Linked DNA regions of Homo sapiens: regions 1 and 2 are each reported to be linked to region 3. Evidence: microRNA targets listed by miRTarBase, many of them from high-throughput screens and not tested one by one. Region 3 holds a microRNA gene; each other region holds the end of a gene's coding sequence. Distances are from middle to middle.
Evidence for each region. The annotated mature microRNA hsa-miR-23c reads AUCACAUUGCCAGUGAUUACCC and lies in region 3 at 3,512-3,533, opposite strand. An mRNA with a match to its seed (bases 2 to 7 or 8) in the 3' UTR can be bound and repressed. Matches are read on the target gene's strand: a 7mer-m8 pairs with bases 2 to 8, a 7mer-A1 pairs with bases 2 to 7 and ends in A, and an 8mer does both.

Region 1: the mRNA of KIAA1210 is a reported target of hsa-miR-23c. Seed matches in the 3' UTR shown: 7mer-m8 at 2,812-2,818.
Region 2: the mRNA of BTLA is a reported target of hsa-miR-23c. Seed matches in the 3' UTR shown: 7mer-m8 at 3,527-3,533, 7mer-m8 at 2,998-3,004 and 7mer-A1 at 2,841-2,847.

The regions. Positions count from the first base shown.
Region 1 is chrX:119,076,903-119,081,965 of GRCh38, reverse strand. KIAA1210 reads left to right here. Exons shown (of 12, transcript NM_001394962.1): 12 at 462-3,331. The coding sequence ends at 637. Among named protein-coding and RNA genes, the nearest start is that of CT47C1, 6.4 kb to the right of the region's middle.
Region 2 is chr3:112,461,833-112,466,895 of GRCh38, forward strand. BTLA (B and T lymphocyte associated) reads right to left here. Exons shown (of 5, transcript NM_181780.4): 5 at 2,134-4,551. The coding sequence ends at 4,276. Among named protein-coding and RNA genes, the nearest start is that of BTLA, 35 kb to the right of the region's middle. RefSeq lists enhancers at 1,683-1,822, 4,260-4,775.
Region 3 is chrX:20,013,590-20,018,663 of GRCh38, forward strand. It overlaps MIR23C (microRNA 23c), which reads right to left and starts at 3,598; the gene lies at 3,499-3,598. It overlaps MAP7D2 (MAP7 domain containing 2), which reads right to left. Exons shown (of 17, transcript NM_001168465.2): 11 at 2,505-2,736; 12 at 1,634-1,738; 13 at 1-36.

The DNA of each region.
Region 1 (5,063 bases), 99 Mb from region 3:
AACTTTTACTGGGTGCATCTATTAAGTCATCAATCAATTCATTTCACATGAAATCGTGGATTGGCAAACACAAATAACATTACCTTATCTGAAATTTTAGAAACTAAGTAGATACAATATGTTTCCCTCTGGTCTCAGTTCAAAGATGTAAGACAATCCAGTAATAACCACCTGAAGATTGGCAGTTACAGCCATAGGTATTACCTCCCAGGCCTTCCCATGCCCAGGGCCCTGTGGCCATAGCCAAGTTGATTTTACCCCTTTGACATACTACCCATGGCATCACACAGGTCCTAACTTTTAGAAGTCTGGCACCAAAGGGAGAAGAGTTTAGAAAGCACTAGAGCAGGGGGATCAGAGGAAACCTGAAAGGAGGAAACATTATATGGCATTCCATAAACAACATACCCCAATATCGCTGGGGTTCCTTATTGCTTGTGTGTTATTTGCTGTGGTTCCAGTTGGATTTGAAGCTCAGAAGATACTGCAAGTTCCTGCCATGGAAAAAGAAACCAAACGATCTTCAACTCTCCCAGCCAAGTTCCAGAACCCAGTTGAGCCAATTGAGCCTGTCTGGTTCTCACTGGCCAGGAAGAAAGCCAAAGCATGGAGCCACATGGCAGAAATCACGCAATAAAGAGCTCTTGTGTGGAGCATCAGCATTTATTTTATTTAGTTTTTTTTTTTTTTTTTTTTTTTGAGACAGAGTCTCGCTCTGTTACCCAGATTGGAGTGCAGTGGCGCGATCTCCGCTCACTGCAAGCTCCGCCTCCCGGGTTCACGCCACTCTCCCGCCTCAGTCTCCCGACTAGCTGGGACTACAGGCGCCCGCCATCACGCCCGGCTAATTTTGTTTTCGTATTTTTAGTAGAGACGGGGTTTCACCATGTTGGCCAGGATGGTCTTGATCTCCTGACCTCGTGATCCGCCCGCCTCAGCCTCCCAAAAGCTGGGATTACAGGCGTGAGCCACCGCGCCCGGCCAAGCATCAGCGTTTTAAATGATAATTGCTAATAGCTGTATTAATTCTATGTAGTGATCTTTTTACTGTGACCACTTGTATTAAGCAAAATAAGTATTAAGCAAACTAAGAATTTATTAAGCAAAATAAGAATTTATTAAGCAAAATAGCCTTAGAAATGCAAATTAAAACATAATTATTTGAATGAAATAAATGCCATGAATGCTTAACCTTCCACGTAGTCACTGCCAGCACCCAGAAACCCAGCATTTCCTCTATTAAAACTATCGAAAACATTTGCACTGCTGTAAAATTGCAAAATCTTTAACTTTGGACAATGTGCTTTAGAAGGGAGAAAGCAAAAACATTTTGTTGGAGCAACTAGAAAATTGTCATTTCCCTCAACCAAATAAAGTAATTCTAATGGAAACATTCAGATGATTTGACCTAAAGATTGGCCTTTAGGTTTTATGAGCCTAGATAGATGCCGCAATTATTTGGTTGTTGCTCTAAGCTTTGCAAGGGATCCTAAAAGAGGCGGTGGAAGTGAAAATTCTGGGTCTCCAAGAAAATTTCTGCACAGCCAGTTCTCCAATCAGCCTATCACCCCTTGAAACATCTTCCCTGTGTCCCTGGGGGCCCCTGATGCTTTCTCCTTGGGTGATAGTAACATGCAGAGCACTTACACAAAGCTCCCTCTTTGGACATACCCCACGTCGACCTGTCACAGGCCTGGCTGTAGCGAGCACCTCCCTATGACGCAGAATGCTTCTTGGGAATTATCTTACTCCTCTGGAGGGTTAGTCCATCAATGTTTTGCTTCTTGTCCCAATACTACTGTGACCCTCTCTGATCGCACAGAAATCACTGCCTATCACATATATCCTGTTAAGCACTGAAGACCCTATTGAAATTAGAGTTCTACAGATGCCAAAAGCTGTACTTTCCATCAGGCAGATGGCAAGCTTACTGCCTTGATGCACATCTGGAGCCACTGGAGCTCCTTCCTCTCTGGTTCCAGCATTAAGGTGGAGAACTCCATGTAGCTTCTTGTCCTTTCCCCTCAGCTGTCTTTGCTTCACAAGGTTTTAGCCCAAAGCAAGAGTGCAATCCCAAAGCCACAGAGAAATGAACTTTCCGCTACCTGGAAGCTTTAAGTGAGTAAATCAGCTTTTCCCCTCTCATTCCTAGAGGCACACACCTCAAAAGTTACTAGGCTGGAGAGACCCTACCTTCCAGTGACCCACTCATCCCCCAGCCACGGAGAAGAGGGAAGACCAAAAAGGGAGAGTGAGAAAGAGGATGAGAGGGATGGTCAGCTGTGAGGGGAGGGGGCAAGTGGCCCAGCAAATGTTGATGCCTCCCTTCCCATCTTGCCACACGGTCTTTTTCTTTTGTAGCACAGCCTCCATTAATAACTCCTCGGCTGAGGATGAAGATGTAGGCACCTTTACCCCCAGAGCCAGTTCCTTAATTGGCTGGCTTTCTGAGATGCAGACCACCCTAGAATCTCATCTAGGTTCACTAGAAGTTAGTTAAATCTTCCTTTCTCTGTCTTTCTCTTCATTCCATCCCCCAAACCCACCAAACACTAAGGGAGAGCTCCCTTTGGATGTCTGGGCAGTAAACCTAGCTCATTTTTCTAGGAGACCCAGAAGTGACTTCTGAGTAGTTATCACTGTGTCTGCCTCTGTTACACTGTGCTGCTTTGCTTAAACAGAAATGCAGGCCTGGACATCTGACTGTGCCTTTATATTCTGAGTGGGGTGCTGCCCCATGCAAAAAAATCCAGAGAGGTAGTGAGGTGTCAGAGCTAAACACTTGGTGCTGGGTTTTGTTGATGCTGGTATAATGTGACACAGTACAATTACATGCTAAATTTTGCATTTTCTCTATATAACATCTATTTTTCCTGATACTGTGCCTTTGCCATTTTGATAATGCTATTTTGATTGAGTGAATTTTATTTCCTTTGTATTCCCATAGTGAACAATATATTAAGGTAGATGCCCTTTATCTGGGTACTCCTGGTAGATTAGCTGTTACACCTCCCTTCCCTTTTTTACAGTGAACCTGTATTCAGTTATTGTCACTCTGAGAACTCTCCAATAACAATTTCTTTTCCACAGTTAACAACACAGCTGTTACACCTCCCTTCCTTTTTTTCACAGTGAACCTGTATTCAGCTATTCTCACTCTGAGAACTCTCCAATAACAATTTCTTTTCCACAGTTAACAACAAAGTTCTGTTTTTAAATGAAGAGATTAAGTTCTTTTTAAATGCCTAAAGGCATATTCTGACAACTTTTCTACTTCTTTAACTTTTTTGATTTAAGATATATGCAAAGCAAATAAATTCAATAAAGCCTATTCTGTAGTCCATCTCTGTCTGTGACATGGGGCGGGAAATCAAATAGGATATTGACAACTCAGAGCTGAAGGTTGTCAGAGAAGTAAAACGTTCTTTTTTTTTGAGACGGAGTCTCACTCTGTCGCCCAGGCTGGAGTGCAGTGGCGCGATCTCGGCTTACTGCAAGCTCCAACTCGCAGGTTCACGCCTTTCTCCTGCCTCAGCCTCCCGAGTAGCTGGGACTACAGGCGCCCGCCACCAAGCCCGGTTAATTTTTTTTGTAGTTTTAGTAGAGATGGGGTTTCACCGTGTTAGCCAGGATGGTCTCAATCTCCTGACCTTGTGATCTGCTCGTCTAACGGCCTCCCAAAGTGCTGGGATTACAGGCGTGAGCCACTGCGCCCGGCCAAAGTAAAATGTTCTTAAAAGGTGGTGCTGAGAATAAGGGGCGTCCACGCAGGTGTGCCTGACCAAGCTGATGGCTTTCAGGTGAGCATTGATATTTGGTATGGGGGAGAAGGGCCACTGAAGAGGTTTTACGTTTGGACACCTGGAGAATAAAGAGGGGGTGTGGTTGGGGGACGAGCAGAAGAGACAAGGTGATTGGTGGTTGCACTGTAGCCTGGGTCAGGGACAAAGTCCAAGTCCGATAGCAAGATGGGCTACTGCAACAAGCGCTTTTCAGAAGCAAGGGGCCCTACTGTGCTCAGGTAACAAAGTGGCATGGAGGGAGGAAGGGAAAGGGGTTATAGGCCAGATAATGAGCCTGGCTCACCTGTAACATTTTCAGGGTTTAGAACAAGAGTTCAACTTGGGATCCACATACCATATGTCTAAATATTTGAAATGTTTAAATAAACGAATACAGCATGTTTTATTTAATGGTTTATCTCCTTCCATGACAAATGTACCTTCATAATGACCTCAAAGGCCAGGTTGGGTTCTAGAATTCTCAGACTCCTGTAAGTCCTGCCCCAGTGGTGTGGGAAGAACTGCTCCCCTTCCTCCTCCTGCTTTAGAAATATTTCAGACCTACACAAAATTGTAGAAAATGTTACTATAAACATCAATATATCTACTATTCAGCTTAAGAAATGTAACATTACAAATATAGTTGATGCCTGCTGTGGAGCCTTCTCTGCTAGAATGCCCCTCCCTTTCTTTCCCTGAGAGGTAACCACCATCTCAAATGTGCTTCTTTCGAATGCACACCTTTCTGTATGCTACACTTGTATGCATCTCTTACAAGCACATCTTTTAGTCTCTCTATATGTACCCATAATCAATTTATGGTGATCATTTGTATGTTTTCTTAGAAGTCATATGCATGGTATCATGTTTGTATCCTTTTGGACCCGACTTTTTCCTTTATGCATTTTTCCTCTCTAGGCCTCAGCCCCTGTGAATTCTAGTCTCCTCCCCAGCCCATCCCTTGCTGTCCCTTTCAGTTTACCTGAAACAGCCCCGAGCCAGTGAATTAACCCTGGCTCGACAGGAGGTGCTCGGCTTCTTCCTCTGTTGCTTGAAACCACTGGTTCTCAAACCTTAGTGTTCATCAGAAGCCCCTGGGGGGCCTGTTAAAACACAGATTGCTGACCCCACCCCAGATTTTCGGATTCCGTAGGTCTTGGGTGGAGTCTGAGAATTCCCAGGTAATGCTGATGATGCTGTTTGGGGACCAAACTTTGAGAACCACTGCTCCAAATCAAAGTCTGGGCCCAAGCTCAGCAATACCATGTGGCTTCCAGGCAA
Region 2 (5,063 bases), not on the chromosome of region 3:
GTACAGTTACTTTGGAAGATATTTTGACAATTTCTTACAAAACTCAACATACTCTTACCATACAATCCAGCCATCATCCTCCTTGGTATTTACCCAAAGGAGTTGAAAATTGAAATGTGAGTCATAACCATAACAATGCTGTCTCACACCTGTCAGAATGGCTACTATTAAAAAGTCAAAAAATAAGACACTGGTGAGGTTGCGAAGAAAAGGGAACACTTATACACTGTTGGTGAGAGTGTAAATTAGTTTAACCATTGTGGAAAGCAGTGTGGCAATTCCTCAAAGAGCTGAAAACAGAACTACCATTTGACCCAGCAATCCCATTACTGGGTATATATCCAAAGGAATATAAATTGTTCTGTTTTAAAGACAAATACATGCTTATGTTCACTGTAGCACTACTCACAATAGCAAAGCATGGAATCAACCAAATGTCCATTAATGGAAGACTGGATAAAGAAAATGTGGTACATATACACCATGAAACACTATGCAGCCATGAAAAAGAATGAGATCATGTCCTTTTCAGGAACATCGATGGAACTAGAAGCCATTACCCTTAGCAAACTAAAGACTATTGCATGTTCTCACTTATAAGTGGGAGCTAAATGGCCGGGCGCAGTGGCTCAAGCCTGTAATCCCAGCACTTTGGGAGGCCAAGGTGGGCGGATCACAAGGTCAGGAGATCGAGACCATCCTGGCTAACAGGGTGAAACCCCGTCTCTACTAAAAAATACAAAAAAAAATTAGAAAATTAGCCAAGCGTGGTGGCGGGTGCCTGTAGTCCCAGCTACTCGGGAGGCTGAGGCAGGAGAATGGCGTGAACCCGGGAGGCAGAGCTTGCAGTGAGCCGAGATCACGCCACTGCACTCCAGCCTGGGGGACAGAGCGAGACTCCGTCTCAAAAAAAAAAATAAAAAATTAAAAAAAAAATAAGTGGGAGCTAAATGATGAGAACACATGGAAATATAGAGGGGAACAACAGACATTAAGGCCCACTAGAGGGTGGAGAGTGGGAGGAGGGAGAAGATCAGATAAAATAACTAATGGGTACTAATAGGCTTAATACTTGGGTGATAAAATAATCTATACAACAAACTTTCCATGACACTGGTTTACCTGTATAACAAATCTGCCCATGTACCCCTGAATTTCAAATTGAAGTTTTTCTAAAACCCTGCACACAAATGTTTAGAGCAGTTTTATTCATAATTGTCAAAACTTGGAAGCAACAAAAATGTCCTTCAGTAGATGAACAGATAAACTGTGGTACATTCTGACAGTGGAATATTATTCACCATTAAAAAGAAATGAACTATCAAGCCATGATAAGACATGGGGGAAACTTAAATGCATATTACTAAGTGAAAGAAGCAAATCTGAAAAGGCTACATGGGGCATGATGCCAACTGTACGGCACTCTGGAAAAGGCAAAGCAATAGAGGCAGTGGTTGTCAGGGGCTTGGAGGGAGTGATAAATGAGTAGAGCACAGAGGATTTTTAGGACAGTGAAACTATTCTGTAAATCACTATAATGGTGGATACAAGTCATTATACATGTCAAAACCCAAAGAACTGCAAGTGTGAACCCTCATGTAACCCATGAACTTTGGTTGATAATGACATGTCAATTCTAGTTACTGATTGTAACAAAGGCACCACTGAAGTACAGGATGTTGATGATGGGAGAAACTGTGCATGTGTGGGGGAAGACGGTATAGAAACTCTCAATGCTCACCGCTTAGCTTTGCTGAACCTAAAAGTGCTCTGAAAAAAGTTTATATATTTAGCAAAATAGATATGATCGCGCCAGAGAATTCATTCTGGGGACTAGATAGTTTTGGTTGGTGCACAAAACTGATCAAATAAACCACATATACCAAACCTAGCCTCTACTAGTTTTCTCAAATTGTGGACACTGGGAAACATATTAAAATTGGTTGGCATGTCTTTTAAAGATGATGATTAAAGAGCCATTTTCTAGACCTCCTGAATCAGAATTTCTTAGTGCTGCAAGTTAATAGTCTGCAGTTTAGCAAGTTATTCGGGTCGCTTTTATGTGTCAGGGGGTTTAAGAATCAGTATTCTATTCATGTCCACACATTTTGGGGTACAAAATCAGATGCCAAATTGATTTCAAATAAGTTTTAATAACTTTACCTTCTCATTGAGCACAATCACAAGCTTAAAATTTGTGAAAAACCATTAAATTATCTACATATTCTTTTTCTCAAACCCTCTATAAACTAATGAAATAAGCCATGTAAATAATAGTGAAGTAGAGTCATTTGGGAAAATGCATGTATGTCTCTGACACCATTTTGAAAAGGAATAAAAACATAAATGATTTGTGATTTTGGCAAACAGTACAAATATATTAATACATCTTAGAGATGAAATCATTATCAGCATTATCTTTACTATAAGACATACTAAGGATATTTTAAATAAGACAGAAATATTTTGCTTTTAAGTTTGAGAGAATCATGAAGGAACTGTTCAATTTCGTGTGTTCATCTGATAAGAGGACAGCTAAATGTATCCTCCCCATATTTCCTGTTTCTATTTTTAAGAATACCACAAGCAGCTATTCTAACATGTCTTTCTTACATAAGTTGTCCACAAATGCAGCCTGGCTAAAACAGCCTATCTCGAATTGGTTGCTTGAAATTCTAGGTGTAATTGGCAAAATAACAGTGACTCAAAAGAATATTTGCACCCCCAAATCTAAGGAGCTAAAACTTAATGCCAGTGTTACTTAAGAAAATCTCTCCACCACAAAACCTCAGTTTTGTCTTTTTGTATATATACCCCACTTGTATTCTAAACTCCATAATTTCACATATTATTTTCTTTAATGACCCATTTACTCTAGTATTTTGAGCTTCATAAGCAAACTGAAAATATAATGTCAATTTGATCAGTTTCTCGTGCACCATTTCTGTTGTCACCCACCCCACCTAACACACACACACACACACACACACACACACATCACATTCCTTTGTGCAGCAGCTCAGCTCACATATTTGTTGAAATGGATTTTAACCTTTGCTATCCACTTTGTATGAAGACTATTACATTATTCAGTAGCAGCACCTGAGAATTCGAATAGCCTCAAACTGTTGAATAAAATTATAGGCTATTTTTGAAATAGTTTAACTCAAGTACTTTGGAAAGTCCAAAAATCTGAATCCATCTTTTGCTATACTCTTAAGTGGCTGCAACCTCAGTATTTTAAAATAAATGATTAGCAAACTAAAATATGTCACTACAGATGATTTGCCCTGATTCCTTAGTAAGAAGAACAGCAAGATGCAGATGTGGTGAATGAAAGCAAATTGACCCCTACAGACCAATTAAATATTCTGGGTTTTCCTCCATTCCATTAATTGCACTTTAACTTGCTATCAAGTCAAGCATGAAGCAGTTTAAGCTATCTTCACTTGCCCAGTGATACCTATTCTGACTAACTTTTAAACTATTCAGATGCCCATAAGTATATTAATTCAGCAGCATTATGTCACATTCCTATCCATTAGTCTATGTGACCCAGTGAGTCTCTACTTTCCTCATAAATGTGCTATACGTTGACTGCTCCATTAATACCTATATTTGCTTATCAATCTAACAGAGTAGATATAAGCATTTGTTTGCCAGGTATGTGGAACATCTACCCTATATCCAATTGGTATATTCTATATTTTTATTGCACCATTTATTATTTTCATTTTCTTACATCAAGCCTAAAATGATTTCTCCTTTGCATTTAAGAAACACCATTCTTAGACTGACACAGCAAAAATTTCTTATTTTGGAAGACTGACTTGAAATATACAATCATTACTGTATTTATGGTTGGTTAGTCAAATTGGGACATTTTGTTTTCAAGAGTGTGTAGTGAACTGATGCAGGTAACACAAACCTCTTTTCCCTACAAGTCTTTCCAATAGCTTCAAAGGCAAGATCGAGTTTGTATATTGGGTAAAATGTAGCTAAGTTTAAACGTTCTACTATTCTGCTACTCATGATGTCAACCAGTTTTGGAGAGATTTTGTTATTCAAGGCTATAATATAAAAAGCTCCCAAATAAGTTTCTGAGAGAAATTTTAATCATTTATCCTATGGACCCTTAAGACCCAAGCACTAACATGAACATTTCTAAAGTAAAAATTCTCAAATTGAGAAATATTATTTGACATCCTGTTGAGCCCAGACAATGATGTCAACATGCTGATCATTCAATGGTCCCTGTTGGAGTCAGAAACAGACTTAACTCCTCACACATATGGATGCATATTCTGTTGGTGCTTCTTTTACATTTCTTGCCAGTCTTGAGTTCGGTCCAATGACAGAATGGTTCAGGGAAGCATAAACAATGCCTGGTTTGTTTTCTTCCAGGCATGGATTAGAATAAACTTCAGACCCTTCCTGCATCCTGAAACAAAGGTCAGGGTCATTATCATAAATTCCAGTTTCTGATAGCAGTACTTGGGAATTTTGCCTGGTGCTTGCTTCTGTTTGCTCACTCTTAAGGTGAGCATCAACCTACAATAGAAAAAAAGATGGTTTTAAGTGACACTTACGGCCATGGTAGTGCATATTCATTAGCAAACTATGAATGAAAAGCTTAAATGGAGTCATGTCCATTGTGAGAAATAATCTACTGTTCCTCACATACTCTGCTGACATCTACACTTTCAGCTAAATTTCAATTATTAAAGGATGAAAGGCTTGAGAATCACTATGTCACCCCTAAATAGTTATTTTGTGCTTTATTACTGGTCACTTTTGAGGTCACAGAACATTTTTTAATCCCCCTTCAAGATAAAAAGCATAGCCCAAATTGATGGAAAAAGCAAAAAATATCCTATGAAAACTTCAGGCAGTTTATAACATGATGAATAGTATTTAATGCAGTTTAGAATAAAAAGATTAAGGATAAAGCAGAACAAATACCCCCTAAGAGGGCAGAAACAATAAATATTATGAGTTAGCCAAGATATATTATTATAATTTGAGACCTTAAATTAAAAAATTGATGTCAGTTTTGGAAAGAT
Region 3 (5,074 bases):
ACTTTTCCTTGTTCTCTTCATGATTTCATCTATTCTCTAAAAACAAAAAACAAAAAACAAAATCAAGTAAGAGGACAATAAGACCAAAAACATAAAAGTAGCTTGGTTTACATGCAATGTCACATTTCTCAGAAAACTTGTAAAAGGCAAAAGTCAGAAGAGGATAACAAGTATAGAAAGGTTTTCCACTAGTTTTGGAGATGTACACCTCCGGCCCCATGGACAAGGTCAAATGCTTGAGAAGTTAACTAGTACGTATCTAGAATCAATATTCGATTTATATCCCATATTTCTCCTTCTTCTCCTTAGGCTCTGTATAAATCAACAAATTACCACCTGCCATTAAAGAGCACCACCCTACAGAAAGTGAGGCTGAGGCTGAGGTGCATCTCAGGAGAGAAGGCCACAGGCTGGTCTCCTGGATCCCAGGCCTACAGCAATACAAAGCCCAGGTTGGGCCTAGGACACCATGAGAATACTCCTTTATAATCAGTCTGCTTAAACCCAATTTTACCCATAAGTATAGTTAGTGTAAATGGACTAAACACTCCAATTAAAAGACAAAGACTGTCAAACAGAATTAAAATAACAATTCCTGGCTATATGCTCTTTACTTATAAAAACACACAGAAGAAGTTTTAAGTAGAAGGGTGAAAAAGATTTGACATACAGACACTAATCATAAAAGGGCTGTCAGGCCAAGCACAGTGGCTCACGTCTATAATCCCAGCACTTTGGAAGGCCGAGGCAGGAGGATCCCTTGAGTCCAGGAGTTCGAGACCAGCCTGGCCAACATGGTGAAATCCCATCTCTACTAAAAATACAAAAATTAGCCAGGTGTGGTGGTGTGCGCCTGTAATCCCAGCTAGTTGGGAGGCTGAGGCAGGAGAATCGCTTGAACCTGGGAGGTGGAGGTTGTGGTGAGCCGAGATCACACCACTGCACTCCAGCATGGGCAATAGAGTGAGACTGTCTCAAAAAAATAAAAGGCAGGGGGCTGTCAAAGTAGACTTTAAGACAAGAAATATCACTAGAGACAAAGGCATATCACGATAAATATATATAAAACAAAACCTGACAGAACTGAAAGGAAAAATGGACAAATCCATAATCACAGATGGAGTTATTCTTTTTTCTATTATTTGGGACAGGGTCTCACTCCTGTTCCCCAGGCTGGACTGCAGTGGCATGATCTCGGCTCACTGCAGGCTTAACTTCCCGAGTTCAGGTCATCTTCCCACCTCAACCTCCTACGTAGCTGGGACTACAGACACATGCCATCACACCCAGCTATTTTTTGTATTTTTAGTAGAGACAGGGTTTCACTGTATTACTCAAGCTGGTCTGGAACTTCTGGGCTCAAGTGATCCTCCCGCCTCTGCCTCCCTAAATGCTGGGATTACAGGTGTGAGCCACCATGCCTCGCTACAGATGGAGTTTTTAACAATCTTTCTCAATCACTGATGGAACGAGATGGCAAAAAACTAATAAAGACATAAAAGATTTGAACAGTGGTATCAATGAACTTGACCTAACTGACAATCCTAGGATCATTCTATCCAATCACTGCAGAAGAGAACTGGATTTACTTCCTGTTCACTTACCCTAGGTCTTCCTGACCCTCAGCCCTTACCTTCTTTCTCTCCAGTCTCTCCTGCTCAATCTGCAGCATAATCTGTTCTCTCTCGAGACGCATCTGTTCAGCTACCTCCCGGGCCTTTGTTTCTGCTGCTTCTTTCTAACAGAAACAGGTAAATCAAGGCAAAGCTTTAATAAGCTAAGAAAACAGTGTGGTAATTCCCTGGCTTTGCACATGTTCCTTCATCTCATCATCTGCCCTAAAGTGGATGCTGCTCCAATATTCAATGTGGATTTATACAAACCACTGCATGACACAGCAAACATGGTTGGACCTCATTCATATACCCCTGGCTCACCATGCAAATCACCTGCAGACAGTTCTCACACATGGCCAAGGCTTTTCTGTGTCTGTGGGCAGGCTTGGGCCATGAAGTGTGCATGTGGCCAGATCAGAGAGTTAATTCCCCAGGGAGTGACCTTCTACTACCGTGAAGGGCAGGATGTGGTAGATAAGTAGTTCAGTTTCCTCATCCCTCAGCTGGACAATTCTAAAGCATGATCCACAGTCTGTCAGAGGTTCCCAATGGGACTGTGTTCCAGTCACCCACAGTAACACATGCATCAATGCACTTACATTGGCTTTTCTCCTATTCCTCTACCAGCTTCCTGGGATTCGCTTGCAAAAAAAACTGCTGGCACTCAAATTCTTAGCCCAGGGTTTGCCTTTGGGGAAACCCTAACTCACAGATGGCAAACATTACCAACTTCACTGCAACTGCCCCAACTTATATTTAATAACCAGCCCAGACAGTTTAAGAAGAAACTTCAAGTAAACATTATGAGTCATTGAAATTTAACTAATTGTACCTACTATCAAGGTCCTTAAAAAACAAGTAAAGTCCATCTGAGGACTCATACAGTACCTGCTTTTCAATCATGGCTTTCTCTTGTTTTTCTTGTTCTTGCTTTTCTTTCAACAACAGCTCCTCCTCAGCCTTCCGCTTGGCCTCCTCGCCTGCCTTTCTTTTCTCTTCCCCTTCCTGTTTTTTCTTTTCCTCTTCCTGCCGCTTCCTTTCTTCTTCCTGCTTTCGGGCTTCCTCTTCTAGGCGAAGCCTTTCCTCCTCTGCCTTTCTTTTCAATTCCTCTCTCTCCAGCCTTTTGAGAATACAACTGTTGTTAGAAGATGACATGCTCGAAAAGCAAACTGCCAGAGAACTGTGTGCTGACAGCCGAGAATAATGCTCCACATGGTAACACACACACATACCTTTCAACGAGCATTCATTTAATAACATGATTCATCCTTCCTGGAAATCCACTCTGGTCCATATATTTACCAAAAAGTATTAACCAGGCTTGACTTTAAATTCTGTAATACAGCAATGAATGATGTGTTGATGTGTAACGCATACTGTATTGAAAACAGATGCTCCTCAGTCAATGAACAAATGACCACGGTGACAGAAAGCCAAGCCATCATTCTTATTGAATGACAATTCTTTTAAAACCTAAGCAGAATATTTAAAACCAATGAAAGCTAGGAAAAATGGGAAGTGTCTCAATGGCCACAAATGTGCCAGTCAGCAATTTAAGAGCAGTGACTACGAACTCAAAAAGTCATACCAATTTGGTTCTAATTGGTATGTGACTTATGAAGCAGCAAATGGAAGAAAATGCTCAACAGAAACTTGACATTTAATAAATTAAAACCTCTATTTCCATTTATTTTGGCAATCTTTAGAAATCTATTTTAGCTTTCTTTGCTATATGAAAATTAAGTGGCATTTAGACATTTTCATCCACAGTCAGATGAATGGTTCATGGTGTAATGGTAAAGAGCTCGAAGCAGTAAGGGAAAATCCTGTAAAGTCCAAGAGCTTGTTTTAACCTTTCTAATGTTCCTCCTCCTCACATGTACGTCACTTTCCTTGGGTAATCACTGGCAATGTGATGTATGGGCATGACTCAAATTGTACTCTGATTATGCCACTCACTGTGTGACACCTGGAAAGTCACTCAATGTTCTTGATGCCCATTTAAAAAATGGGAAAAGCTATACTATTGTTCTATGGCTTTACTGTGAGAATGAAAATGCCTGGCCCTAGAAGGTTCTCAAACGTTAGTTTGTTTTACAATTTAAAATGAATCCTCTCTCCAAGCCCCAATGTCCTTTAAAGTGCACCTATAAATCTGTATGTCCTTTAGAAATTACCTTCATTTGGAAGCATGTGCCAATGACTTACTGGGATGCTGTTGTTATAAAAAGGTCAAGACTTAAAAAGAGCATCCATCCATCCTAATGGTCAGCTTCAGAACTTGTGCAGGCTAACAGCCTATGTATGACCAAAGGAAATATTTTGTTTATTCATTCAAAGAAATATTTTAAAAGAAAGATAAACAAATACTTAAATATATTAGCCTGAGACTGTAACAATACGTGATAACACTAAATTAGGTCACAATGCCTATAAACCATTGTGAAACAACTCAAATTATTAACAGATATTCTGGAGAGGAGCATTATAGAACCTATCAGAAAGAAGCTCCCATTTTCTTAGATTCCTCAATGAAATACTATGTCCAACACAGGATTATCCAAAATGGATGTGTTAATAACAAGATGTATCTAAAGGTTAACTGAAGTACCATTTCATTTCTTACCCTTTATTAACGAGCCAATTATGATTGTCCCAGAGAAGTTAACACACAAAGGATACATTGTGTATTAATTAATGTATAAGCTACTTCATAAAGGACCTGCCGTCTTCATCTCCAGGACCTGAAAATCCATTCTCTTTTTTTTTTTTTTTTTTTTGATGGCGTTTCACTGTTGTTGCCCAGGTTGGAGTGCAATGGTGCAACCTTGGCTCACCACAACCTCTGCCTCCCAGGTGCAAGTGATTCTCCTGCCTCAGCCTCCCAACTAGCTGGGATTACAGGTATGCGCCACCATGTCTGGCTAATTTTGTATTTTTAGTAGAGACGGGGTTTCACCATGTTGGTCAGGCTGGTCTCAAACTCCTGACCTCAGGTGATCTGCCTGCCTCGGCCTCCCAAAGTGCTAGGATTATAGGCATGAGCCGCTGCACTTGGCCTCTGTTTCTTGTTTTTTACCATCAGGACTTCAGAAGTGCCCAGATGCACACATGTAAGAACATCCTTATGGCCCCTGAACCTCCATAATCCTCATTATCACCCAAAATATAAATCCCCACAAGCCCATGAGACCCCGCTTGTCCTTTCCATAGCACCTCCAGGGAAATCTTGTCCTTTTTTTTTTTTTTTTTTTTGAGATGGAGTCTCACTCTGTTGCCCAGGCTGGAGTACAGTGGTGTGATCTTGGCTCACTACAACCTCTGCCTCCTGGGTTCAAGTGATTCTTGTGCCTCAGCCTCCCAAGTAGCCGGGACTACAGGCATGCGCCGCTATGCCCAGCTAATTTTTGTAGTTTTAGTAGAGATGGGGTTTCACCATGTTGGCCAGGCTGGTCTCG